Homo sapiens: one gene and its partners. The protein of the gene in region 1 interacts with the protein of each later gene in a biochemical or structural test. Each region holds a gene or a part of one and is shown on either strand. Other genes may lie near its edges. The genes, in order: EPAS1, KPNA6, PDK1, NDN, KPNA1, CHD4 and ESR1.

What was found.
Region 2: the proteins of EPAS1 (region 1) and KPNA6 form a complex in vitro, tested with the Homo sapiens proteins (one study listed by BioGRID).
Region 3: of the proteins of EPAS1 (region 1) and PDK1, one has a biochemical effect on the other in vitro, tested with the Homo sapiens proteins (one study listed by IntAct).
Region 4: the proteins of EPAS1 (region 1) and NDN form a complex in vitro, tested with the Homo sapiens proteins (one study listed by BioGRID).
Region 5: the proteins of EPAS1 (region 1) and KPNA1 form a complex in vitro, tested with the Homo sapiens proteins (one study listed by BioGRID).
Region 6: the proteins of EPAS1 (region 1) and CHD4 form a complex in vitro, tested with the Homo sapiens proteins (one study listed by BioGRID).
Region 7: the proteins of EPAS1 (region 1) and ESR1 form a complex in vitro, tested with the Homo sapiens proteins (one study listed by BioGRID).

Annotation. Positions count from the first base shown.
Region 1 is NC_000002.12:46,380,907-46,384,406, forward strand, and holds part of EPAS1 (endothelial PAS domain-containing protein 1), read left to right. Parts: intron 1-689; coding exon 690-816; intron 817-1,068; coding exon 1,069-1,183; intron 1,184-1,518; coding exon 1,519-1,692; intron 1,693-3,500.
Region 2 is NC_000001.11:32,163,556-32,167,055, forward strand, and holds part of KPNA6 (importin subunit alpha-7), read left to right. Parts: intron 1-2,549; coding exon 2,550-2,675; intron 2,676-3,500. UniProt on the Homo sapiens protein: Functions in nuclear protein import as an adapter protein for nuclear receptor KPNB1. Binds specifically and directly to substrates containing either a simple or bipartite NLS motif.
Region 3 is NC_000002.12:172,566,090-172,569,589, forward strand, and holds part of PDK1 ([Pyruvate dehydrogenase (acetyl-transferring)] kinase isozyme 1, mitochondrial isoform 2 precursor), read left to right. Parts: intron 1-766; coding exon 767-844; intron 845-1,110; coding exon of another isoform or gene 1,111-1,127; exon of another isoform or gene 1,128-1,933; intron 1,934-2,651; coding exon 2,652-2,728; intron 2,729-3,500. UniProt on the Homo sapiens protein: Kinase that plays a key role in regulation of glucose and fatty acid metabolism and homeostasis via phosphorylation of the pyruvate dehydrogenase subunits PDHA1 and PDHA2.
Region 4 is NC_000015.10:23,684,900-23,688,579, reverse strand, and holds NDN (necdin), read left to right. Parts: upstream 1-1,274; 5' UTR 1,275-1,362; coding exon 1,363-2,328; 3' UTR 2,329-3,180; downstream 3,181-3,680. UniProt on the Homo sapiens protein: Growth suppressor that facilitates the entry of the cell into cell cycle arrest.
Region 5 is NC_000003.12:122,466,440-122,469,939, reverse strand, and holds part of KPNA1 (importin subunit alpha-5), read left to right. Parts: intron 1-2,510; coding exon 2,511-2,618; intron 2,619-3,500. UniProt on the Homo sapiens protein: Functions in nuclear protein import as an adapter protein for nuclear receptor KPNB1. Binds specifically and directly to substrates containing either a simple or bipartite NLS motif.
Region 6 is NC_000012.12:6,590,380-6,593,879, reverse strand, and holds part of CHD4 (chromodomain-helicase-DNA-binding protein 4), read left to right. Parts: intron 1-263; coding exon 264-464; intron 465-651; coding exon 652-789; intron 790-1,062; coding exon 1,063-1,184; intron 1,185-1,313; coding exon 1,314-1,487; intron 1,488-1,822; coding exon 1,823-1,964; intron 1,965-2,054; coding exon 2,055-2,186; intron 2,187-2,296; coding exon 2,297-2,414; intron 2,415-3,500. UniProt on the Homo sapiens protein: ATP-dependent chromatin-remodeling factor that binds and distorts nucleosomal DNA. Acts as a component of the histone deacetylase NuRD complex which participates in the remodeling of chromatin.
Region 7 is NC_000006.12:151,943,682-151,947,181, forward strand, and holds part of ESR1 (estrogen receptor), read left to right. Parts: intron 1-491; coding exon 492-827; intron 828-3,500.

The DNA of each region.
Region 1 (3,500 bases):
ATCTGGGCTGCCACTGAGGGCAGGCAAAGAAGTGGCTTGTTGAGAGCCCTGTACCTCAGTGTCTCCCTTCGGACCACCACCAGAGTGCCTTTCGTATCTCGGTTCATCATCTGAGCCACACAGAAAATTGAGTGATGATTTTCCCTGGTTGAAAACAGCAAAAAGATACCCCTGCCTCCCCTTGCCTTTTGGCTGCCCCCGGGTCCTCGCCACTGCAGCCTCTCCCAGCTGTGCCTAGGCTCCAGAAATGCCTTCCCATCTCCCCAGCATGCTCATTTCACCAGCTGCGAGCTCACTGGGCTAAGGCACAGGGGTTGGTACATGACCTGCCACTCCCAGGGGCCGCTGGTACTTGCCCTTTATAGAGCAGCCAAACTAGTTTTCAGTGGGAGCAAAAGGCAGAGGAGAGACATGGGCAGAAGAAACCCTCCTAAGGACTAACATTGCCCAGCCAGGCAGCCATCCCCCAGACCAGGAGGCTTGAGCCCTTCAGCATCTTATAGCTGAGGAAGGAGACAGAGCTCGAGCTCGGCCTGCAGGTGCACAGCCTGCCTCTGAGACTCTGCCTTTTGGGTCTTTGAGTCATCACAGGCATCAGCATTGGGACTGGAAGGGCCCCTAAGATGAGAAGGCACTGAGTGGCATGTGGCTCCAGACTCCCTCATAGCCTGCTCTCTCGGGCTTGGCAGGTCTGCAAAGGGTTTTGGGGCTCGAGGCCCAGACGTGCTGAGTCCGGCCATGGTAGCCCTCTCCAACAAGCTGAAGCTGAAGCGACAGCTGGAGTATGAAGAGCAAGCCTTCCAGGACCTGAGCGGGGTGAGTCATCCCCACTGGCCACAGGGGCCTCTCCATAGCCCTTAGGGAACCCAGGGCTGCTGAGAGGGGTGGGGATGTGGCCCTTCCAAGCCAGCATAGCCCTTAGGGAACCCAGGGCTGCTGAGAGGGGTGGGGATGTGGCCCTTCCAAGCCAGCAAGTGCCAGCCCTGTTCCAGGCCCACCCAACCCACCCAGTCTGGGGACCTGGTTCTCTGGCCATTTCCCCTTTCCATCTGCCCTTCTTACTCCCAGGGGGACCCACCTGGTGGCAGCACCTCACATTTGATGTGGAAACGGATGAAGAACCTCAGGGGTGGGAGCTGCCCTTTGATGCCGGACAAGCCACTGAGCGCAAATGTACCCAATGGTGAGCAGCGGCCACAGGCCTGGGCCTCCTGGGGGTTCTGGTGGAAGGACTGGGGCTCGGGAGCCCATCCTGGTTCTTCCATTCACCACAGGCCGTACCTGCCTCTCTGAGCCTTGTTAGAATGGGGCGATGTCCTCTGTCTCTCCCGCAGTCCCACACACCCAACTTTTCCATCTCCACTCTGACTTAGATGATGCCATCAGAGGGTCCTGAAGGTTGGCTGTAGTTCTGGTGACTCTGAGCACCTTTTATAAAGGAAAGGGATGCTAGGGCTTCCTGGCCTCTCCCCTCCCTCAGGCCAATGCTACCGTCACTCTCTGACTTTGGTCTTTCAGATAAGTTCACCCAAAACCCCATGAGGGGCCTGGGCCATCCCCTGAGACATCTGCCGCTGCCACAGCCTCCATCTGCCATCAGTCCCGGGGAGAACAGCAAGAGCAGGTTCCCCCCACAGTGCTACGCCACCCAGTACCAGGACTACAGCCTGTCGTCAGCCCACAAGGTGTCAGGTGGGTGTGCCCAGGATCTGTCACCCCCATCCCAGGATTCGATGCCAGGGGAAGCCCACGTCTACTTTTTTTCCAGCGTCTGCACAGTGCCAGGCACAGGGAGGTGCTTGACTTGAAGTCACCTATACAGGGCTCAGGTCTCCTTGGATTTAGGGAACCTCCTCACAAGTTCCTTGTGACATCAGTGATCAGGCCCCCCAGTGGGTGGGTCTGAGACACAGCTAAAAAACTCAAACTCAGGCTAGAATACTGAAGGAAAGAATGCAGACCACTACCGACTGCCCAAAGAGGACTGAACACTGAACACTGGGTTGGCGACCCCCAGAACACTGTACCACTGTTGACAGGAGCACTTTCAGAAGAAAGAGCAGGCGGCCACAGTGGTGAGGGCCTGTTGAAGAAGAGAAGAGAAAGTTCAGAGAGAGAGAGTTGGGAAGCGGTCTGGGCAGAGGCAGGGGATCTCCCGTCTATGCAAGGATGAGCTTGCTGCGTGGAGAAGGGAGTGCTCCTTCCCTGGGGCTTTAGGGAGAACCCTCCCATGATCAGGTGCCATCCAGGGCTCTTTCCACCCTGAGAATCCCGGAGCCTTGCCCCTTCCTCAGTTCTTCATGTGGATGTGTTTTGGGGTGTCACTCTGAGTTCAGGCAGGTGCTGAGAACATGCCAAAACTTCCTTCAGGTAGAACAGCCTGGAAAGCTCTGGTAGGCCCACCCCACTGGACTTGGTTCAACTGCAGGCACCAATGCCTGCCTTCAACCCTGGGCCACCTTCATCTTGACAGTATCTTGTGAAACATATATGTCTTCATGAGGTTTGTTTGGCCTGAAAATAATTCGTGGTTTATGGAAAAACATACCAGGCCCCTGTTCTAAAAGGCAATTTCCTCAGCAATAGAGTTTGGGGAAGGTTATAGTTCTGTGCTTCAGAGTCCAGGCTGTAGAAACACCAGACAGCCCTGGCTTAAATTCTGGCTCTGCTGTTGAGTTCAGGGGCTGGTATATATTTATGTGCAGTAAGAGGTAGCCAGCACTATTCTTCCTGTTATGTGAAGCCCACGAATTACCTTGAATATTGAAATCAAGGGAAAATCATATTCTTTTCAAAAGAGTTGAATCATATCAAACTCTTTTCTGACCATGAATAAGAGAAGTTAGCAAGGGATGGTGAGCAGGTATCCATTGATACTGTCCACAGGAGCAGTCAAGCTGGGGAGGCAGGCATGGACCCCAGCAAGGATCTGAGCTAGGAGGTGCAGGAGGCAATGGCCACTGGAACGAGGCTCTGCAGATAAGGGAAGGTGGGTGGGCATCTCCCATCGGAGGGGCAGAATGCAGGGCTTCCAGGCTCTCTGCTGCCACCTAAGCCTTTCCTCCTTGGGATGGGGGCCTGTGTGTGTGCTGCGAGTGTCCCCCCTGCCACTCCCTGGTCTGCCTCCTCGGCAAGAGAATAGCACAGAGGCAAGAAGAAAGGACTGCTGAGGGTGGTGACCAGAAACTGGATTTTCAGACTGTTGAATCTTGAGGCAGTCTGTGTTTGCATCTGTATGTATGTGTGTGTTCTGCATGTTCTGTGTATGTGAGCATAGGTGCCAGGTGGTTCAGCCTTTCCTCCCTGCTGCCAGGAGGCATGGGGGTCAGCAACCCCAGGCTCTTCCTGAAGCTTCCACATACCTGTGCTGCAGCCCGCACCTCACGCTTTCCTCTTTCTTGGGTCTCAGCACCCCACCTGAGGCAGTGGTTCTGGAGGCAGACACGTTCCCCGGGCATGCAGCAGGCCGTGGGACAGACACCACTGAAGGAGCAGAGTGA
Region 2 (3,500 bases), on another chromosome or scaffold:
GAAAACTAAGTGGAATAACTGGACTTACCACCTGGGACATTGTGAGTTAGTTAAGTTTGAGTCATGGTCCCTTTGAGATACTGAAAGCTATGGAACTCCACCCCTGCTTCCTAGATCTTTAAGGTCTCATGGATATCATGGACCTTGGAATAATCTTTTGTAAATAACCCTTCTGGTGAAGGCATAGTAAACAAAGTTCCCCTGCTCAAAGGCTAGAGATTTGGGTATTCTTTGGGTTTTGAGTAGCGAGCATAATTCTGTGGGATTCTGGACAGGTTTCTTAACAGGTGAGTAGTGTCACTCAAACACTCAAACCCACATGCTCATTTTCTGGGTTACTTTGTATATGTATATGCATGTACTTTAAAATACAACATAAAATTTACCATTTTAACCATTGGCATAAAGTACATTCACATTGTTTTTCCGTTATTGCCACTAGCCAGCTACAGAAATTTTTTATCATCTCAAACTGAAACCGTACACATTAAACAGTAACTCCCCATTCTCCCTTCCCCTAGTGCCTAGTAACCACCATTCTATTTTCTGTATCTGTGAGTTTGAGTGCTCTAAGTACCTCATGTAAGTGGAATCATACAGTGTTTATTCTTTCTCGTCTGGTTTATTTCACTTAGCCTAGTATCTTTAAAATTCGTTCATGTTGTAGCATGCATCAGAACTCCTTTGAAAGGCTGAATGATATTCCACTGTATGTATATACCATATTTTATTTATCCATCAATAGACATTTGGGTTGTTTCCACCTTTTGGCTATTGTGAATAATGCTGCTATGAACATTGGTGTACAAATATTTGTTCAAGTCCCCGGTATATACCCAGAGTGGAATTGCTGGATCATGTTCTAATTTTATGCCTAATTTTTTTGAGGGGACACCATACTGTTCTGCACAGCTGCTATGCCATCTTACATTCCCACCAACAATGCAGCATGTTCCAGTTTCCCCACAGCCTTGCCAACAGTTGTTATTTTCCGTTTTTTGTTTTTTGTTTTTTTTTTGATAATACCCACCCTAATGGGTGTGAAGTGATATTTCATTGTGGTTTTGATTTGCATTTTTCTAATGATTGGTAATGTTGAGCATCTTTTCATATGCTTATTGGCCATCTGTGTATTTTTTTTTTTTTTTTGGACACATGTCTATTCAAGTCTTTTGCTCATGTTTTAATTGGGTTGTTGAGTTTTCTGGTTGTTCAATTTTAGGAGTTCTTCATATGTTCTGGATATTAATCTCTTATCAGACACATGTTTTGCAAATATTTTCTCTTGTTCTGTGGTTTTATCTTTTAACTTTGGTGTCTTTAAAAAAAAAACTTTTAACTTATTTAATTTTTTAAAATTGAGACAGAGTCTGTCTTTGTCACCCAGGCTAGAGTGCAATGATGCCATCTCGGCTCACTGCAACCTCTGCCTCCTGAGCTCAAAGCAGTCCTTCCACCTCAGCCTCCCAAGTAGCTGGGACTACAGGCATGCACCATCATGCCTAGCTAATTTTTTGAATTTGTTTTTTTTTGGAGAGACAGGGTTTTACCATGTTGCCCAGGCTACTCTTGAACTACTGGGCTTAAGCAATCCTCCCACCTTGGCTTCTCAAAGTGCTGGGATTACAGGCATGAAGCCACCTCACCCAGACCAACTTTCTTTTCTTTTTTAATTTTTTTTAGAGGGTCTCACTATGTTGCCCCAGCTGGCCTTGAACTCCTGTGCTGAGGTGATCCTACTGCCTCAGCCTCCTGAGTAGCTGGGACTGCAGGTGCATACCACTGTGCCCAGCTTACTCCAATGTCTTGATGCACAACAGTTTTTCATTTTGATTAAGTCCAGTTTACCTGGGCCAGGTGCAGTGGCTCATGCCTGTAATTCCAGCACTTTGGGAGGCTGAGGCAGGAGGATCACTTGAGCCCAGAAGTTTGAGACCAGCCCTGCAACATGGGAAGACCCTGTCTCTACAAAAAAAAAAAATGTTTTTTAATTAGCAGAGTGCGGTGGCACCCTGCTACTCAGGAGTCCCCAGCTACTCAGGAGGCTGAAGTAGAAGGATTGCTTGAGACTGGGAGGTCAAGGCTGCAGTAAGCCATGATCATGCCACTGCACTCCAGCCTAGGCAACAAAGTGAGACCCTATTTAAAGAAAAAAAATGAAGCCGGGCACAGTGGCTCACACCTGTAATCCCAACACTTTGGGAGGCCGAGGCAGGCAGATCACCTGAGGTCAGGAGCATGAGACCAGCCTGGCCAACATGATGAAACCCCATCTCTACTAAAAATAGAAAAATTTTCCGGGCGTGGTGGTAGGCGTCTGTAATCCAAGCGTCTTGGGAGGCTGAGGCTGGAGAATCACTTGAACCTGGGAGGCGGAGGTTGCAGTGAGCCGAGATTGTGCCATTGCACTCCAGCCTGGGCGTCAGAGCGAGACTCTGTCTCAAAAAAAAAAACAAAAACAACAACAACAACAACAACAACAAAAAAACATAAAAAAAATTAAAAACAGTTTAATTTTTCTTTTGTTTCCTGTGCTTTTGGTGTTCTAGGTCATTCTTAACTGTTCAGCCCTACCTTGCCTTCTCCACTTGTTGAGCAGTCCCAAGGAGTCAATCCGGAAGGAAGCTTGCTGGACTATTTCAAATATTACTGCTGGCAACAGGGCTCAAATACAGGTAAAACAGGCAGGGAAGTCAAGGGGCATGGGAAGTCATAGGAACTTGGGAGGTTGTTGGAATATTTGCTTTCAGAAGAAAGAATTTGTTTCCCTTTAAAAATAGGAGTCAATTGGCCAGGCACGGTGGCTCACGCCTGTAGTCCCAGCACTTTGGGAGGCCGAGGTGGGCAGATCATGAGGTCAGGAGTTTGAGACCATCCTGGCCAACATGGTGAAACCCCATCTGTACTAAAAATACAAAAATTAGATGGGTGTGGTGGCGGACGCCTGTAATCTCAGCTATTCGGGAGGCTGAGGCAGGAGAATTGCTTGAACCCGAGAGGCAAAGGTTGCAGTGAGCTGAGATCACGCCACTGCACTCCAGCCTGGGCAACAGAGCGAGACTCCGTCTCAAAAAAAAAAAAAAAAAAAGAGGGGCTGGGCATGGTGGCTCATGCTTGTAATCCCAGCACTTTGGGAGGCTGAGGTGGGCGGATCACAAGGTCAGGAGATCAAGACCATCCTGGCTAACGTGGTGAAACCATGTCTCTTCTAAAAATACAAAAAAAAAGAAAAATTAGCCGGGCGTGGTGGCAGGCGCCTGTAGTCACAGCTAGTCGGGAGGCTGAGGCAGGAGAATGGCGTGAACCTGGTAGGTGGAGCTTGCAGTGAGCCGAGATCGCGCCACTGCACTCCAGCCTGGGTGACAGAGCAAGACTGTCTCAGAAAATAAATAAATAAATAAATAAATTGGAGTCAGTGTGTACTATTGGTCAAAGAAGCTGTGTAACCAAAACTGGGTTCTTCTGTAGTAGCCTGTCACCTATATAGGAAGAACAAAAGA
Region 3 (3,500 bases), about 130 Mb from region 1:
TCCTAACCAACTCTTAAGTTTTGTTACATAGATAGCAATTATTTTCTCCAGCCTGTTATTTTTCTTTTTTACATTGTTGGTGTCTTTTTAGCATATAGACTTTTACATTTTTTTTGTAGTTATATTTGTCATTCATTGTTTATGGCTATTCAGCTTTGTCATGTCACACTTAGACTTTCCCTGGGCCAGGCACAGTGGCTCATGCCTATAATCCCAGCACTTTGGAAGGCTGAAGCGGGTGGATCACCTGAGGTCAGGAGTTCGAGACCAGCCTGGCCAACATGGTGAAACCCCCTCTGTACTGAAAATACAAAAATTAGCTGGGCGTGGTGACCCATGCCTACGTAGTCCCAGCTACTTGGGAGGCTGAGGCAGGAGAATCGCTTGAACCAGGGAGGTGGAGGCTGCAGTGAGCCGAGATAGCGCCACTGCACTCCAGCCTGGTTGATCGAGACTCCGTCTCAAAGGAAAAAAAAAAAGGAAAGGCTTTCCCTGGTTGGGGGCAGTGGTTCATGCCTGTAATCCTAGCACCAAGGCAGGAGGATGGCTTGAGCCTGGGAGTTGGAGACAAACCTGAGCAATATAGGGAGACCATGTCTCTACCAAAAAAAAAAAAAAAAAAAGCAGACTTTCACCAAACTATCAAAGTATATTTTCTTCTGTAGAGAGTTCAAGACTTTGATTTGTCAATACCATTGCCATCTTAATGCGTGAAAGAGAAGTATATTTATTAAATCCTTTTTTGTTTTGTTTTGATTCACACTAGATGGCTATGAAAATGCTAGGCGTCTGTGTGATTTGTATTATATTAACTCTCCCGAACTAGAACTTGAAGAACTAAATGGTAAGCCTGATGTTGTCTTTTTCTCAATAATTAGTGCTTTGATTACTTGATAAGGGATAAGAATTTAAATGTTTTAATGGAAGATGACTTTTTATCAACTTCGTTGGATATGAAGGCTAAAGGATAGTAATCATGTAAAAAATATATCTATAAACATATGTAATTTAGTCAGATTCTTTATGAAAAGATTTGGCTTTTTGTATCACATTTTCTTTATTTTTAATTGATAACTTTGATTCTTTGCTTATTTTTTATTTTCTGTTTAGTCATAGAAAGAAAATGATACCAAGAAAGTTACATTTGACTTTTACATGCACTTCACTAATGTAAGACTTACCCTTTTTCTACTTCCTGAGTTGTAAATAATTTTCTGTTGTTGAGGACATAGACTGGGGTTATAAAAGAGGAAAGAAAGATGCTCATCTATTTGAGAATCTGTTTGTCTCTGATGGTTTTCTTTTTACCCTGATTAGTGCCTTTTGGACAAAAAGGGTTTAGATGCCTTGAAGAGGGATTGATGAGTCTCTTTTTCCTGAAAGCATGGTAGTTTGACAGAAAAAAGCATTTCCTAAGATGACACTTTAAGAAGGTGTGGGAAGAATAAAACAAAATAGGCTTTTACTAAGCTGTATTCTGGACCTTAGAGTGAGAGAGCAGTGAAGTTATGCAATTGAAAATAGCATTGCTTGGTGATTTTCTAAAGCCATATTAACTCTTTTGAGCCATGATGGTAGCATAGCATTTGGTAAATAACAATCACAGTGTACAAGTAAGTGATAGTTTGCAAACCTGAACTGCTGTGAGCAATTTCCAGATGTCCCATTTTTGTTCCCAAGGGGGAGTTTATTCAGAGGAAGGTCTGATTTATTGGTTGAATTAGAATTCTAAGATATCATGAGTCTTAATCATTTGTTCTACTAAATGTCTGTTTTATACACACCCCTATCACCACCCCCAGTGGGGCTCCTATTAAGTGTTTAAATGTAGAATTAATTACTGTCTCGAGAAATTGATGCTAGCTCATATTTTTTATTCAGCTTTATATCCATCGAAATGCCTGAAATAAAACAATATTCCACCCAGGTGAAACATTTTGAAAATGGCTTAAAGAATGTATGGGCTGGGCGCAGTGGCTCACATCTATAATCCCAGCACTTTGGGAGGCCGAGGCGGGTGGCTCACAAGGTCAGGAGTTCGAGACAAGCCTGGCCAATATGGTGAAACCCGTCTCTACTAAAAGAAAAATCAGCCAGGCGTGGTGGTTGGCGCCTGTAATCCCAGCTACTCGGGAGGCTGAGGCAGGAGAATTGCTTGAACCTGGGAAGTGGAGGTTGCAGTGAGCCAAGATCGCGCCACTGCACTCCAGTCTGGGCAACAGAGCAAGACTCCGTCTCAAAAAAAAAAAAAAAAAAAAAAAGAAGAAGAAGAATGTATGCATGCATGTGAATTGGACTGTGGAATTTAAAGATTTTAACACTTCTCTATTTGGAAAGTAAAATTCCTACCCGAAAGTTAAGCGATCTTAAAAAAGACTTTACCATCCTAGAGAAAAATGGGCGCATGGGTTGGTTCGATTGTGATGCAAGATTGTGAGAAGTGACCACAGGACTCTTGTCATCATCAGTTGTAAATATTTGTGGGTATGGGTTCAAACACTAATACATTGAAGAAATGGTGTGGCAGTTCTCCCCCAGGTAATACTGTCCTCCGTAGTTAATGTTTTCTTTTCATCACTACACAGTTTATTCTTAAAAATGCTTTAAGCACATCTCTCTGTACTTTCATATTTTTCTCTTCTGCTCTGTAGCAAAATCACCAGGACAGCCAATACAAGTGGTTTATGTACCATCCCATCTCTATCACATGGTGTTTGAACTTTTCAAGGTTTGTAAAATAGTATTACATAACCTTTACCAGTACTTTTCTGAGGTTAGGAATCTGCTCTGAAAGCCAAATATTCCACTAGGTTCTCCTATTAAGAAGTGCCATTTCACATCAGTATCATATCACATTGCTGGAGATCAGCTTTTTATCAACACAGGGAGACATCTCCATGTAGTGGTGAGCTCAGACTATGGAGTCAGAAAGACCTGGGTTTGAATCCCAATTATGGCTCTTAATATGTGTGTGACCTTGGGCAAGTCACTCAACCTCTCTGAGCCTCAGTTTCCTTTTCTGTAAAACAAGAATACTGTCCAGGATTGTTTATGACTATTGGGAATAACATACTAAGTGTCCAGTACAGTGGCAACGTATTACATATAGGTGCTCAATAGAGTTATCTTTATGTTTTTATAAAACAATATTTAGAAGAGTGATTCTCAACTTGCTACCCTCAAAGGACCAGAATTCTTTTTTTGGTCTGGCTTTTCTTGGGAGGGGGAGGTCATTTATATTGACTTACAGGGTTTCTGCTGTAATCTTTGCTCTTTACAACAAAATTTGAAAACAAATTATGCTACTAATATTGAGAGTATCTTTTTTCCCCGCCAATAATACTTGCTGGTTGACAAGAAAATGGGTGAGGAGTGAGGGGCACAGGTCCTGGTGGGTGAAAATGATTGCCCTCTATCAGAAGCTTGTAGTCTCTCTTCAGTTGTGTTTCATCAGCCAGCAGCAAACTAGAGGAAAGAGGGGGTGGCTTTCAATCTGATAA
Region 4 (3,680 bases), on another chromosome or scaffold:
CTTTCAACATCAACCTGCTTGAGGAAAAATAAAGTGGGAAAAGATACATACTCACAGTGAGGACTCTAGACATGTCAAGACAATTTTTAAATATGCTTTTGGCTTCGAGTGGCAATAACTAGATTCAAGACAGCATATTTAAGAAGCTGCTGATGAGAAGAAACCCGGGAAGAGCTGAAGGACCACATCAGCCCAGACCAAGGATGCTGAAGCAGCATTAAGGTCCCTGGTTTCAGATGCTCAGGCAATGACCCTTTTTTTCATGGAGAGCCTGTAGGAGTGACAGTTTTGTCTTTGCCCACTGGGAATCTGTTTTCCATACCTGGAAAACAGGGTTACCTATGTTTCCCCTGCTACCCTTTGGTCATCTCAGAGACACTACCAGATATTACCCATGGGACCTATTTTTTTTTTAAATCTCAGGAAAGACTTGGGTGTGGCTTCCAACGTGGAGGACTCAGTAGCTTCAGAGAGGGTCCTGAGAGAAGGTGAATTGAAGAATGAGGGTGCTGGGCAGAGGGAAAAGACATTATCATACAAGTTTGTGCTAAAAGATATAGCAATCCTTCTGCTATGGACTAAGTATGGAAAAAAATAAAATGGAATCAAAGTTACCCAAAGGAAGTGTAAAACCCAAATTTATGCCCGTTAAAGCATTAATGATGCTCTAAGTCCACTGCCTACTTAAAAAGTTCATAGTTCACATGGGTTGATAGGAAATTACGTTAACGACACACTGCATTTCCCCTTTTCTTATAGCCTATCTGATTTGGTAGGGAGTCGATCATTTTTTATTGGAATTTCTCAGGATTCCAACCTCAGACATCCACTTTACAGTTTACACATTTTCTTGGACAAGCCCGACTGTTCCTCTCACTGGTTCGCATAAAGCTCATGTTTACAAAGCCGCCCAGACCTTTCTCTGGGACTCTCATATTTAACTTAATTCTGGATATACCCAGGTAAGCGTTTCCCAAGAAACTTGACCCCAACATCCCAAAAACTTAAGGTATCTTTCCCTTAAACTGGCCCCTTCTCCAGTACGCATCCATCTCACTTCTCTCCTGCCCTAGATCTTCTCAGCCCAAACAGGAAACCCCGGGATCGCTCTCCCAGCAGGTGAAGCCTCGCCATGGACCCTCCCCGTCGGGGCCCCGCGCTGCCCCGCCCGCCCCCAGCCGCTGGCCAAGGCCGCGGTCGCGCAGGCGCAGTGCCGCGTCCCGCCGCCGCCCCGCCCTGCCCGTCGCTGCGGAAGGCGCCGCGCGCAGCAACGCGCACTTCCTCTCCAGGAATCCGCGGAGGGAGCGCAGGCTCGAAGAGCTCCTGGACGCAGAGGCCCTGCCCTTGCCAGACGGCGCAGACATGTCAGAACAAAGTAAGGATCTGAGCGACCCTAACTTTGCAGCCGAGGCCCCCAACTCCGAGGTGCACAGCAGCCCTGGGGTTTCGGAGGGGGTTCCTCCGTCCGCGACCCTGGCAGAGCCGCAGAGCCCTCCTCTAGGCCCGACGGCCGCTCCGCAGGCCGCGCCGCCTCCCCAGGCCCCGAACGACGAGGGCGACCCGAAGGCCCTGCAGCAGGCTGCGGAGGAGGGCCGCGCCCACCAGGCCCCGAGCGCGGCCCAGCCGGGCCCGGCACCGCCAGCCCCGGCGCAGCTGGTGCAGAAGGCGCACGAGCTCATGTGGTACGTGCTGGTCAAGGACCAGAAGAAGATGATCATCTGGTTTCCAGACATGGTGAAAGATGTCATCGGCAGCTACAAGAAGTGGTGCAGGAGCATCCTCCGGCGCACCAGCCTCATCCTCGCCCGGGTGTTCGGGCTGCACCTGAGGCTAACCAGCCTGCACACCATGGAGTTTGCGCTGGTCAAAGCGCTGGAGCCCGAGGAGCTGGACAGGGTGGCGCTGAGCAACCGCATGCCCATGACAGGCCTCCTGCTCATGATCCTGAGCCTCATCTACGTGAAGGGCCGCGGCGCCAGAGAGAGCGCCGTCTGGAACGTGCTGCGCATCCTGGGGCTGCGGCCCTGGAAGAAGCACTCCACCTTCGGGGACGTGCGGAAGCTCATCACTGAGGAGTTCGTCCAAATGAATTACCTGAAGTACCAGCGCGTCCCATACGTGGAGCCGCCCGAATACGAGTTCTTTTGGGGCTCCCGGGCCAGCCGCGAAATCACCAAGATGCAAATCATGGAGTTCCTGGCCAGGGTCTTTAAGAAAGACCCCCAGGCCTGGCCCTCCCGATACAGAGAAGCTCTGGAGGAGGCCAGAGCTCTGCGGGAGGCTAATCCCACTGCCCACTACCCTCGCAGCAGTGTCTCTGAGGACTAGCAAAGTCTGGAGGCAGATGAATGGTTTCTGACCCTCACCAGGGCTGTGGAAGGGTGGGGGTGGGTCATTATAGTATTCAGGATTTACAGTGCAGTATTCACGTGTAACTTTTAAGTTTTCAGTACAGTGCTTTTATACCTTTAATGCAATGTTGTATTCATTTGGGTACTATTGTGTAGTATTTAGGATGTATGCATGTTTGTTTATATGTAAGCTTGGTTGGTGCTTTCGCTTTTGTGCTACCTTTCTTGGATTTTTGTACCAGAGATGTGCTAAACTGATGAAATACATTGAGAAAGTTTCCATCTTATTCTTTTATATGGGACTGATGATGTGTGTTGGGGTAGACTGCTCCTGCAGAGTTTGGAAGAAGTCACCAGCAAAGCCGGCCTAACCAAGAAAAGTCAAGGCCCTTCATGACCTTGCTGGGCACAGAAAACACCCTCGTGGAGTACACTAATTTGAACTGGACTGGTCTCAGTGTGAGCACTTGGCACACTTTACTAAACACATATACAACCCCACCGTGAGTCAACTTTAAAGTAAACATTAAAGATTCTTGTGATACAATCATTTTTGGAAAAGTGTACTTTATCATTTTAACAAAGCAGTATGGTTGGGAATGAGACAATTCTCTATTTTACAGTGTATACAGATACAACTATTTCCCCTAATAGGGTGGGAAAAATCGCTACTCATGATTACTCCTAAATTTGTGAAGTTTATAGTTCTATTGTCTTTAAATGTAACTCATGTTTATTTCAAAAACATTCACAAATATAGAAAAGTATACAAAACAAAACAGTAAGATTGTCTGTAATCACATCATATGGGAATAAAAAACAAAAATAATTTCCTTCCCTTAAGTTTCTACATTTTATCAAAATTAATAGATGTCTTGTGACATCTATTAATATACATATAACATATTTATAATATAAAAGAGTGAGACATTGTGCTAAGCCCTAACATGTATTTTTCTCCTTTAATCCTTGCAACAGGCCTGTCAGGCAGGCACCTACTGCCTCTGCACCATGGAGGAAACACAGGAATAATGTAGGTAATGAACTTTCCATAGCTCATAAAGGTTAATAAGAGAAGGAGCTAGGACTTGAACTCAGAATGAATCCAGAGCCCACATTTGTCTCCACCTGCCTACGACTGCCCTATACCCCGTGGCTTTTAGGTTATTTATTTTTAAATTTATTTTTACATTTTATGTGGGAGCCTACAATCACATGGGTTCATGGGCCACACATACAAAAAGGCTAGGAATTTTATTTTTCTAATTCTCATGATATTTTGGAGAAAGCAATATCATTCTGATTGTGCAAATTAAGAAACTTACTTTT
Region 5 (3,500 bases), on another chromosome or scaffold:
GTTTCCACTTTTGAAGGATGATTTTGCAAGGTTCAGAGTTTCTAGGTTGGTGGTTTTCTCTCTCAACACTTCAAATATTTCACTTCACTTTCTTCTGGCATGTGTGGTTATCATTCTTATCTTTATTCATGTGTTAAGTACAGTGTTTTTACCCTTGTCTTTTAGGATTGTTTTTCCTTTATTTCTGATTTTCTGTTGTTTGAAAATGATATCCCTAGGTGTAGTGGGATTTTTTTGGCCTTTGTCCAGCTTGGTGTTCTCTGGGCTTCCAGTGGTTTTGTTCCCAGACCAAACTGGGTTGGGCTGCTGTTTCTCATGGCCCAATAACAAGATGCAGATGAACTGGGGAGGAAGAGAGTTTTTATTTTTGTACCTGGTTACAGGGAGAAGGCCTAGAAATTATTGCCAGACCAACTCGAAATTACAAAGTTTTCCAGATATTATATACCTTTTAAGCTATATGTCTGCGTGTAAGTGTGTATTCATCTAAAGACATAAGTGATGAAACTTCTTTTAATCTGTAACTAAGGTCTGAGTCTTGAAGACCTTCCTCTGGAGTCTCAGTAAATTTACTTAATCTAGGTGCTGAGGTGATTACCCTTATCTTGTCTCCTGCTCGTGGAGGTTTGGGGAGTTCTTTCAGACATCCAATAAACTTGTTTGTGGAGGCCTGGGGAATTTCTTTGTTATGCTTTAAGGCCCAGGAAAGGCCTAGGCAAAACTCTTGGTGGGCTTTTGTTAGATTCCAGCCTTTGTATAAGGGCACTGGCTTTTTTTAGCTTTTAATATTTAACTTAACCAGTCAGTCAGTACTGAAACAGTTGTTATGGAGCCCTGCATTAATGAGACATGGCCTGCTACAGTTTGGTGTCTGATACTAATTTGGGGGAAATTCTCAGTCATTATTGTGTCAAATATTTCTTTTGTTCTTTCCTCTCCTCCTGATAGTTCCATTCCATGTTTATTATACCATTTGTAGTTGTTTCAGTTCATAGATACTCTGTTCTATTTGTGTCAGTCCTTTTTCTGTTTTCTTTTCAGTTTTAAAGATTTCGAATGAGATTTCCTTAAGCTCAGAGATTATTTCCTTAGCTGTGTCTTGTTTACTAAAAAGTCGATCAAAGGCATTCTTCATTTCTGTTGTTGTTGATCTCTTGCATTTCTTTTTAGTTCTTTTTTAGAATTTCCATCTCTCTCCTTACATTGCCTATCTGTTCTTGTATGCTGTCCACTTTATCCATTTAAAGCCCTTAGCATATTAATCGTAGTTTTAAATTCTTGGTCCGATAATCTCAACATCACTGCCGTGGCTGAATCTGGTTCTGATACTTGCTCTGTCTCTTCAAAATGTGTTTTTTATATTTTAGTATGCCTTGTAATTTTTTCTTGATAGCTGGACATGTACTGGGTAAAAGAAACTACTGTTAAATAGGCCTTTGGTAGGTGGTTTTGGTATTAAGAGTAATGCTGATCTCCTAGAATGAGTTGAGAAGTACTGTCTCTGCTTCTGTCTTCTGAAAGAATATGATTATGTGCTGATTAGTATTAAGTTAAATCTCAGAGAGAACCTCCTGTAGATCTTGGGTGTTCTTTTTGTGTTGTACTCTGCGTTATGAATTTTAGGTCTCTTGGCCTTCTCAGCTCTGAACTGTGTTTTCTCAAATCCAAGGAGCATCTAAACTCTGGTTGAGTTTACCTTTCCTGCACTGCAGCCTGGAACTGTCTGCATAGTAATCTGAGGCAGTATTGGGGCTTATCTTGGGTTTTTCTTTCTGAGATATCACTACTCTGTGGTTTTTATTGTCCAATGGCTGAAACATTATTTTATGTATTTTGTCTGTTTTTAGTTGTTCAGCGTGAGAGAGGGTAAGTTACTGTTACTCCATCATGGCTTGATGAATAAATGTGCTGCCCAGGATTCATAAGGATATAATGGTAATCACCCTCGTTGGCTGACTTTGGAGAGAACTAGTCTCCTTTGCCTATACACATTAACGGAGCTGCTTTAAAGGTAGTGCTTAAGCAGTCATCATTTGTTGCCACTGGTTGCTGGATAGGTTGGGAAGGTCAGAAGCCACAGTCCACCATCTTTGGAGATTAGGAGGGAAGTATTAAGTCATTTGAACATAGTTTTTATTTTCATTTTCCTTGGTACATTGTTAGGACTGTCCTGATGTATACTTTACATAAAGGGATGAGGAAAATGGCCAAGCATGACCCAGCTCCTTTTTCCAACCTTTTTTTTTTTAATGTCATATAGTGTCAGACCTCTCTTAGTAAGTTTTACATTATCAAGTGTTGTTTATAGCATGTTGTAATAGTTAATTATATTTGATTATAAGACTATGGAGAAATCTGAAATGGTTACTCATCAGTAAAAGCTGACAGCTTTAGAATTTTAAAAATGATTTTCAAAGACTTCACTTTGAATGGGGTGCCTAGTATTTGAATGTTGAACTCCCTTGTGTTAGAATTTACATTTACATTGCTACCAATCTTTTATCTTTCAGTTATTCAAGCGGAGAAATGTTGCTACAGCAGAAGAAGAAACAGAAGAAGAAGTTATGTCAGATGGAGGCTTTCATGAGGCTCAGATTAGTAACATGGAGATGGCACCAGTAAGATAATGAACTCTTTTCAGTGTTTTTGTGATGAAGATATGAGATGTAGATTTCCTTTTGAGTTTTAAAAAAGGTTAGATGGCTACAAAAAGTACTTGGCATTTCATTTTTAAAAAGAATATGCTTAATCTCATGGTTCATTAAATGTTTATTATATTTTGGATAAAGTGCAGTTAAATTATAAAGATTAATTCTGCTCTAAAAACTTAACAAGCTAATTATAAGATAAAATTACTCTTTAAAAGTTGAATAAGAATAGACACCTTATTTATTTATTTATTTATTTATTTATTTATTTATTTATTTATTTATGTTTTAGAGACAGGGTCTTGCTGTGTTGCCCAGGTTGGAGTGCAGTGGCGCAATCGTAGGTCACTGCAACCTCGAACTCCTGGGCTTAAGTGATCCTCCTGCTTTAGCCTCCCAAATAGCTGGGACTACAGGCATGTGCCACCATGACTGGCAAATTTTTAAATTTTTTGTGGAGACAGGATCTCACTGTGTTGCCCAGGTGAACTCCTGGCCTCAAGTGATCCTTTTGCCTTGGCCTCCCAAAGTGCTAGAATTACAAGCTTGAGCCATCACACCAAGCCATAAGAGATACTTTAAAGAAAATAATGATTTTTTATTGATTTACAAAATTGACCTGTTTGTATGATTTAAAAACTTGATTCCACATCAGAACTCTTGGATTTTTCTGTTGTAAACCATTTTGTTACTTTTTTGAAGTTAACATGAAGAGATAAAAGTCATGCTTTATTTGTATGGATTAGACCTATCTAGATTTCTAGAGTATTGTAATTACGTAATTTTAAAAATAGGTTATATATGTGTACATATATATATATGTGTACACACACACAGTTTTTTTAAAAAGAA
Region 6 (3,500 bases), on another chromosome or scaffold:
TGGGCAACAAGAGTGAAACTCCGTCTCAGAAAAAAAGTATATAAAGACTTAATGGGAGAGGTAAGACTTGTAGTTATGGTGGGACCTTGGGTTTTTGGAAAGGAGTGGGCTGGGCACTTGTATAGAGGAAGGTGAGAGCAGGAGCAGCAGCGCAGGTGTGTCAGTCCTTGGCTCAGCTTGAGGGGGCAGCAGGGTGGTGGGTGTTCGCTGGGGTTGCAGTGTGCTGGGGCCCTCAGTCCTGACTCTCCTCTTTTTTCTCAAAGGGTCATTCCAAAGGCCCCTTCCTAGTGAGCGCCCCTCTTTCTACCATCATCAACTGGGAGCGGGAGTTTGAAATGTGGGCTCCAGACATGTATGTCGTAACCTATGTGGGTGACAAGGACAGCCGTGCCATCATCCGAGAGAATGAGTTCTCCTTTGAAGACAATGCCATTCGTGGTGGCAAGAAGGCCTCCCGCATGAAGGTATCTCAGGGGAGGGAAGCCACCCTAGAGAAAGAGTTGTGGCTTCTGGCTTAGTTTACCTCCTTGTGATCTGGTCCCTGGTGAGGCAAAAGGGTAACCCTGGGAGGAGGAAAACATTCCATCAGTCTCCTGGTTGTGCTTACACAGAGGAACTGACTAGTAGTGACCAAGTTGCCTTCATGTGCAGAAAGAGGCATCTGTGAAATTCCATGTGCTGCTGACATCCTATGAATTGATCACCATTGACATGGCTATTTTGGGCTCTATTGATTGGGCCTGCCTCATCGTGGATGAAGCCCATCGGCTGAAGAACAATCAGTCTAAGGTGAGGGCTGAGGGAGGGATGTTGGAGCCCCCACTTTGGGTTTTTTCTAGTACTACCAATTCATTAAGGGGAAAACTTGTAGATGGAGAGGAGAGGGGAAAATTGTCTCTGCCTTCCTTCCTTGTATGTGACAGCCCTTGGTGGCCAGGCCTTTAAAAAGAATGTGAGGAGTGGGATGCTTAACTATTGGGCAGTGAAAAACTTGAAATTTTGTAGAGATTTGCTAGAGCTCTGTTTTCATTGGATTTCACCTTTCTCCATCTGCTTCACCAGTTCTTCCGGGTATTGAATGGTTACTCACTCCAGCACAAGCTGTTGCTGACTGGGACACCATTACAAAACAATCTGGAAGAGTTGTTTCATCTGCTCAACTTTCTCACCCCCGAGAGGTTCCAGTAAGTATGTGTTTATCTGTAATCGGCTCATAATTGTGCCTCTCATTCTTCCTGTTGCCCATTTCCTGTATCACTTTTCTTTCTTCCTTTCTCCTTCTCCAATAACTTTTTTCCTTTTTCTTTCTGAAGCAATTTGGAAGGTTTTTTGGAGGAGTTTGCTGACATTGCCAAGGAGGACCAGATAAAAAAACTGCATGACATGCTGGGGCCGCACATGTTGCGGCGGCTCAAAGCCGATGTGTTCAAGAACATGCCCTCCAAGACAGAACTAATTGTGCGTGTGGAGCTGAGCCCTATGCAGAAGTGAGTTGGGAGGGACAGAAGCAGACTCCATTTAGACATCTGCCAGTCTGCAGAGTGTTTCCTATTCCTCCCCCACTCAGCTTCAAGGCATCTGGTGACAGGAGCAAGCAAGGCCTGAAGAAACCTGATGCTAGGGCGCTGGAGCGCATAGTTCTTACTTATTTTAGGTTATACCTTTCCTTATTTAAAATGGTGGTGGTGGTAGTGCTTGTGCGTTAGGTGTCCTTAGTTCCAAAGTGGGATGTGTTGGAAGAAAGATCTCAGTTGTTGGCACTGCATTATTAGTCATTGAAAGGCTCTCAAGTCTAACCTGTCTTTCTACCTTGCCCATGTAGGAAATACTACAAGTACATCCTCACTCGAAATTTTGAAGCACTCAATGCCCGAGGTGGTGGCAACCAGGTGTCTCTGCTGAATGTGGTGATGGATCTTAAGAAGTGCTGCAACCATCCATACCTCTTCCCTGTGGCTGCAATGGTATGTAGTGCCATCTCCTGTTCCTCCCTGGGTTGGGTCTTCTCCATGTGGGCTTTCTTTTAATACTTTTTTCTTTGCATTTGTTCTCAGGAAGCTCCTAAGATGCCTAATGGCATGTATGATGGCAGTGCCCTAATCAGAGCATCTGGGAAATTATTGCTGCTGCAGAAAATGCTCAAGAACCTTAAGGAGGGTGGGCATCGTGTACTCATCTTTTCCCAGGTATCATGTGGACTGGGAGCTTTAGGGAACAGTCATAGACAACCCTTAGTGACCTAAGGAAAGGGATTACCATCTGACTCTTCCATAATTAAACCGTGCTTCTTTTGCAGATGACCAAGATGCTAGACCTGCTAGAGGATTTCTTGGAACATGAAGGTTATAAATACGAACGCATCGATGGTGGAATCACTGGGAACATGCGGCAAGAGGCCATTGACCGCTTCAATGGTGAGAGAGAAGGAGTTGTTTAGTTTCAGGAATCCTCATTTGCTTATATCTTTGGACTGTAACTTCTTGTGCATCTCCTTTTCTGTGTAGTTCTTTTGGGACTTTGTCATTTGAGATGGAGTAAAGCTTTTGAATGTCTCAATTGGACGAATGTATTGGACTATTCCTAGGAGATTTTTTCTTTTGGGGTATTTGTTCTTTCTGCTAGAAAGAAGAAAGCATTGTATCTCGAGGGCAAGCAAAGGGTCAGGACTTGTTCAAGCTCAAATAGCAAGTTACTAGCAGACTTGTCTGCCTCAGTAGACGCTACTAGGTTTTTTTTTTTTTTTTTTTTTTTTTTTTTGAGATGGAGTCTTGCTCTGTCGCCCAGGCTGGAGTGCAGCGGCACGATCTTGGCTCACTGCAACCTCCGCCTCCCGGGTTCAAGCAGTTCTCCTGCCTCAGCCTCCCAAGTAGCTGGGACAACAGGCGTGTGCCACCACGCCCAGCTAATTTTTGTATTTTTAGTAGAGATGTGGTTTCACCATGTTGGCCAAGATGGTCTCGATCTCCTGACCTCATGATCCGCCCACCTCGGCCTCCCAAAGTGCTGGGATTACAGGCACGAGCCACCACGCCCAGCCTGTTTTGTTTTGTTTATTCGAGATAGGGTCTCACTCTGTTGCCGAGGCTGGAGAGCAGTGGCACAATCATGGCTTACTACAGCCTGGACACACCCCCAGGCTCAAGTGATCCTGCTGCTTCAGCCTCCCAACTAGCTGGGGCTGTAGGCTTGATCCACTGTACCTAGCTAACTAAAAAAATTTTTTTGTAGAGATGGGGTCTTGCCATGTTGCCCAGGCTGATCACAAAGTTCTGGGCTCAAGCAATCCTCCTGCCTTGGCCTCCCAAAGTATTGAGATTATAGGCATAAGCCACTGTGCTCAGTATCACTACTCCTTGTTTAAAAAAAAAAAACTTTTTATTTTAATTTTAGACTTAGAAAAAAGTTGCAAAACAGCAGAGAGAGTTCATGTATACTGTTCAACTAGCTAGCTTCTCTTAATAATAACTTACGTAACTGCAGTACAATGATCAAAACTAGAA
Region 7 (3,500 bases), on another chromosome or scaffold:
TTTTAAAAATGCCCTTTTAATTTACTATTAAAAGAATATTCCTAGCAGAAGTAGTCTTGGATGCTAAATTCTATTTTAAGAATAACTAAAATTAGAATTCTGTTCTTTTTATAACACCTGTTACACACACACCCCTACCTAGTGTGTCGGAATCAGTTTGTATGGGCTCACCAAAGCCTACTGTTCAATTTTCAGGAGTTTTGTAAGCCATTTGATGTCAGACAAGTGGCCTGAAGTTTGTTATGGTGGTGGTATTTACACCATGAAAATTGGCATGTTATGGTGGTAGTATTTACACCATGAAAACTGCTACAAATAGAAATCTTTTTCTTCTTCTCTTGGAGAGCCACTTGTTGAACACTTACCAGCTCACCTGTGCTTGAAAGTATTTCTTCAAATAAAATGAAAGCTGGTTAGCTTTGAAAATTTTTTGTATAAAAGTTTACACGGGAAAAAAATAAACTAATTTTTTTTTCCACCTGTGTTTTCAGGGATACGAAAAGACCGAAGAGGAGGGAGAATGTTGAAACACAAGCGCCAGAGAGATGATGGGGAGGGCAGGGGTGAAGTGGGGTCTGCTGGAGACATGAGAGCTGCCAACCTTTGGCCAAGCCCGCTCATGATCAAACGCTCTAAGAAGAACAGCCTGGCCTTGTCCCTGACGGCCGACCAGATGGTCAGTGCCTTGTTGGATGCTGAGCCCCCGATACTCTATTCCGAGTATGATCCTACCAGACCCTTCAGTGAAGCTTCGATGATGGGCTTACTGACCAACCTGGCAGACAGGGAGCTGGTTCACATGATCAACTGGGCGAAGAGGGTGCCAGGTAAGAATGCGAAGCGCAGCTTTTAAGAGTCAATAGCTTTTCAAGAACTTGTTGTGATGTCATGGGAGAAATAGTGGGGGAAAAAGAAGCAATAACATGTTATGTAATTGGTTTCAAGGTTACAGGAGATGTGTTCATTTTCAGTATCAATACACTGTAATTTTCCAGGAGATTAGGAAATAATATTTTTAAATCAGAATCTAGAAGACTGAAATTCTTAAATTGACATAATTTATTTTTAACCCATCTCATTTACCAAAAAGATTTAGGGTGGACACTACATGGTAAAACTATTTAATAGTGTATGTTCACAGTAGCAGAAACTTTTAACACTAAATGAACTACAAAAGTTTGTAATATTAATGACCTTTGTTGAAAACATCTCAATTATTAATCAAACGATTTTATCTTAAAAAGATTTTTAAGATTCGGTGTGGTGGCTCGTGCCTGTAATCCTAGCACTTTTTGGGGCTGAGGTGGGAGGATTGCTTGAGCCCAGGAGCTTGAGGCCATCCGGGGCAACGTGGCGAAACCCTGTCTCTACAACAAATTTTTAAAAATTAGCTGGATGCAGTGGCACACACCTGTGGTCCCAGTTATGGGGGAGGCCGAGGTGAGAGGATGGCTTGAGTCCAGGAGGTCAAAGCTACAGTGAACCATGTTTGTGTGGAGTGCCACTGCACTCCAGCCCAGGTGACAGAGCAAGACCGTGTCATAAAAAATAAACCACACAAAAAAAGAGAAAGATCTTTATGGATTAAAAAGATAATAATAAGTGTATTTACTGAATGCCAATTATTTATCCAACCTGGTGTATGCTTAGTGTTTTAGGAGAAAGAGAAAGGCAATGGAAAAATAAATTAAGGTATCATCCCTGAAAGAAACTTTTAGAAAGACACAGTGGCTGAAGTGATACCTTGTTCCTTCAGTTGATTCTCTCAGAACTGGTGTTCTGGTAAAATTGGACTGTTACTCCTGTTATTCAGGGAGAAGAACTCAAGTTTGTATGGCAACAAGACTAGAAAATGACTTTCTCCCTGCCCCAGTGTATTCGTTCAGGAGCTAATGTAGATAAACCGAGGCAAGAAGAAGCTAAATTTTTTTTCTGGGCTTATAGGTTAAATGAGTGATAGATTTAGTTGGAGGTTTTCTCATTTGGTTTCTTTTAATAGATGAAATTAATTGTTTCCTATGAAGCATGAAATGTTTTATATGAAACTAAAAAAATGTGGAGTTTGTACTTGCATTTCAAGGGTCACTGCTCTGTTATAGGCCAAGTGAACTTATGTCTGGCCTTAGAGAATCTTACATGTATTTGCATCTATCAGTATATAAACATGTGGGCCGTAGAATAAGGAGCCAGCAGTACCAGAACCCAGCCTTGTTAGAGGCCACCATTTTGGTGGTTGAGTGGTTATTAGTTTACATGGAAGCATGGAGAATAATAGGCAAATGTAGGTTTTCAGTGTCAGTCGAACTGGCAAACAAAAATTTCTGGTCATCTTCAGAATGAAAAGTTTTCTTGAGTACCTACATATTTTAGCATTTTCATATGAAGCAGATACATTATAAGTTAATTGTTGGAATCTAATTGTAATATGGCTGTAAGTTTTTTCTTTATATTTGTTATTGCCTTGTTCTTATATTATAGGGAAAGAGAAACAAACAAACAAGCAAAGAAACTAATGGTCATATATTTGAGAGCCAACTCTTGGTTGCTGTTCAGTTTTATTTTCCTGTAAACATATATTTTCCCTTATGAAATCTTGGGAATATTAGCTCTGGAGCACTGCTGAACTCAAGTACAGACATTTTCATGTGTATCAGTAGATTCCCATCATGACATTTTTATAATAATGTTGAAGAGCATTTTAAACAACTGGAATTAAGCTCAAATACATTACCAGTGGTTGAAGAATTCACATCAATAATCTTCTGAATTTAGGAATAAAATGGAGAAGTCAAGGAAAGGAAAATATTATACACAGGCTAGCAATAGTTAAAATACAATTATTAAAGCCAGAGCTAGACAAAATTATGGCAATGAGATGTGTAACAAAACCACTCTGTAACTTCATCATGTTCGTTTAAAAGACCTGAATGATTCCAAAATCCTTAGACCAATAAACTATGTCTTCTTACTTGATAATTAAAAAAAAGAATTATAAAGGCAAAAATGAAATTATATGTATGTGTGTTTGTGTGTGTTCCATGGGAATACAGCTGTTGTAAATCAAAGGCCTACTTGCCTGACCAAGCAGAATAAAAATAGTCATTGATTTTAAAGAGACTAAAAGTGAGGGAAGAAAAAAGTCTTCTGCAAAAGCTCTACAGATGGTTGTCAAACTTTTCAGAAAAATAGACAAAGCAACATTTTGAAAAGGATTTATATCTTTTATATATTCAAATACCATCTGTTATTTAAAAAACATAGCCCACACTGAATATCTGATATAGACAATATAACGTTTATGAGATAATAGTTTGAGAATGACAATAATAATAGTAAGTTTTAAAAGAGGAAATAAGCCGGGCACAGTGGCTCATGCCTGTAATCCCAGCACTTTGGGAGGCCGAGGCGGGTGGATCACCTGAGGTCAGGAGTTCAAGACCAGCCTGGCCAACATGACAAAACCCTGTCTCTACAAAACAGTACAAAAATTAGCCAGGCTT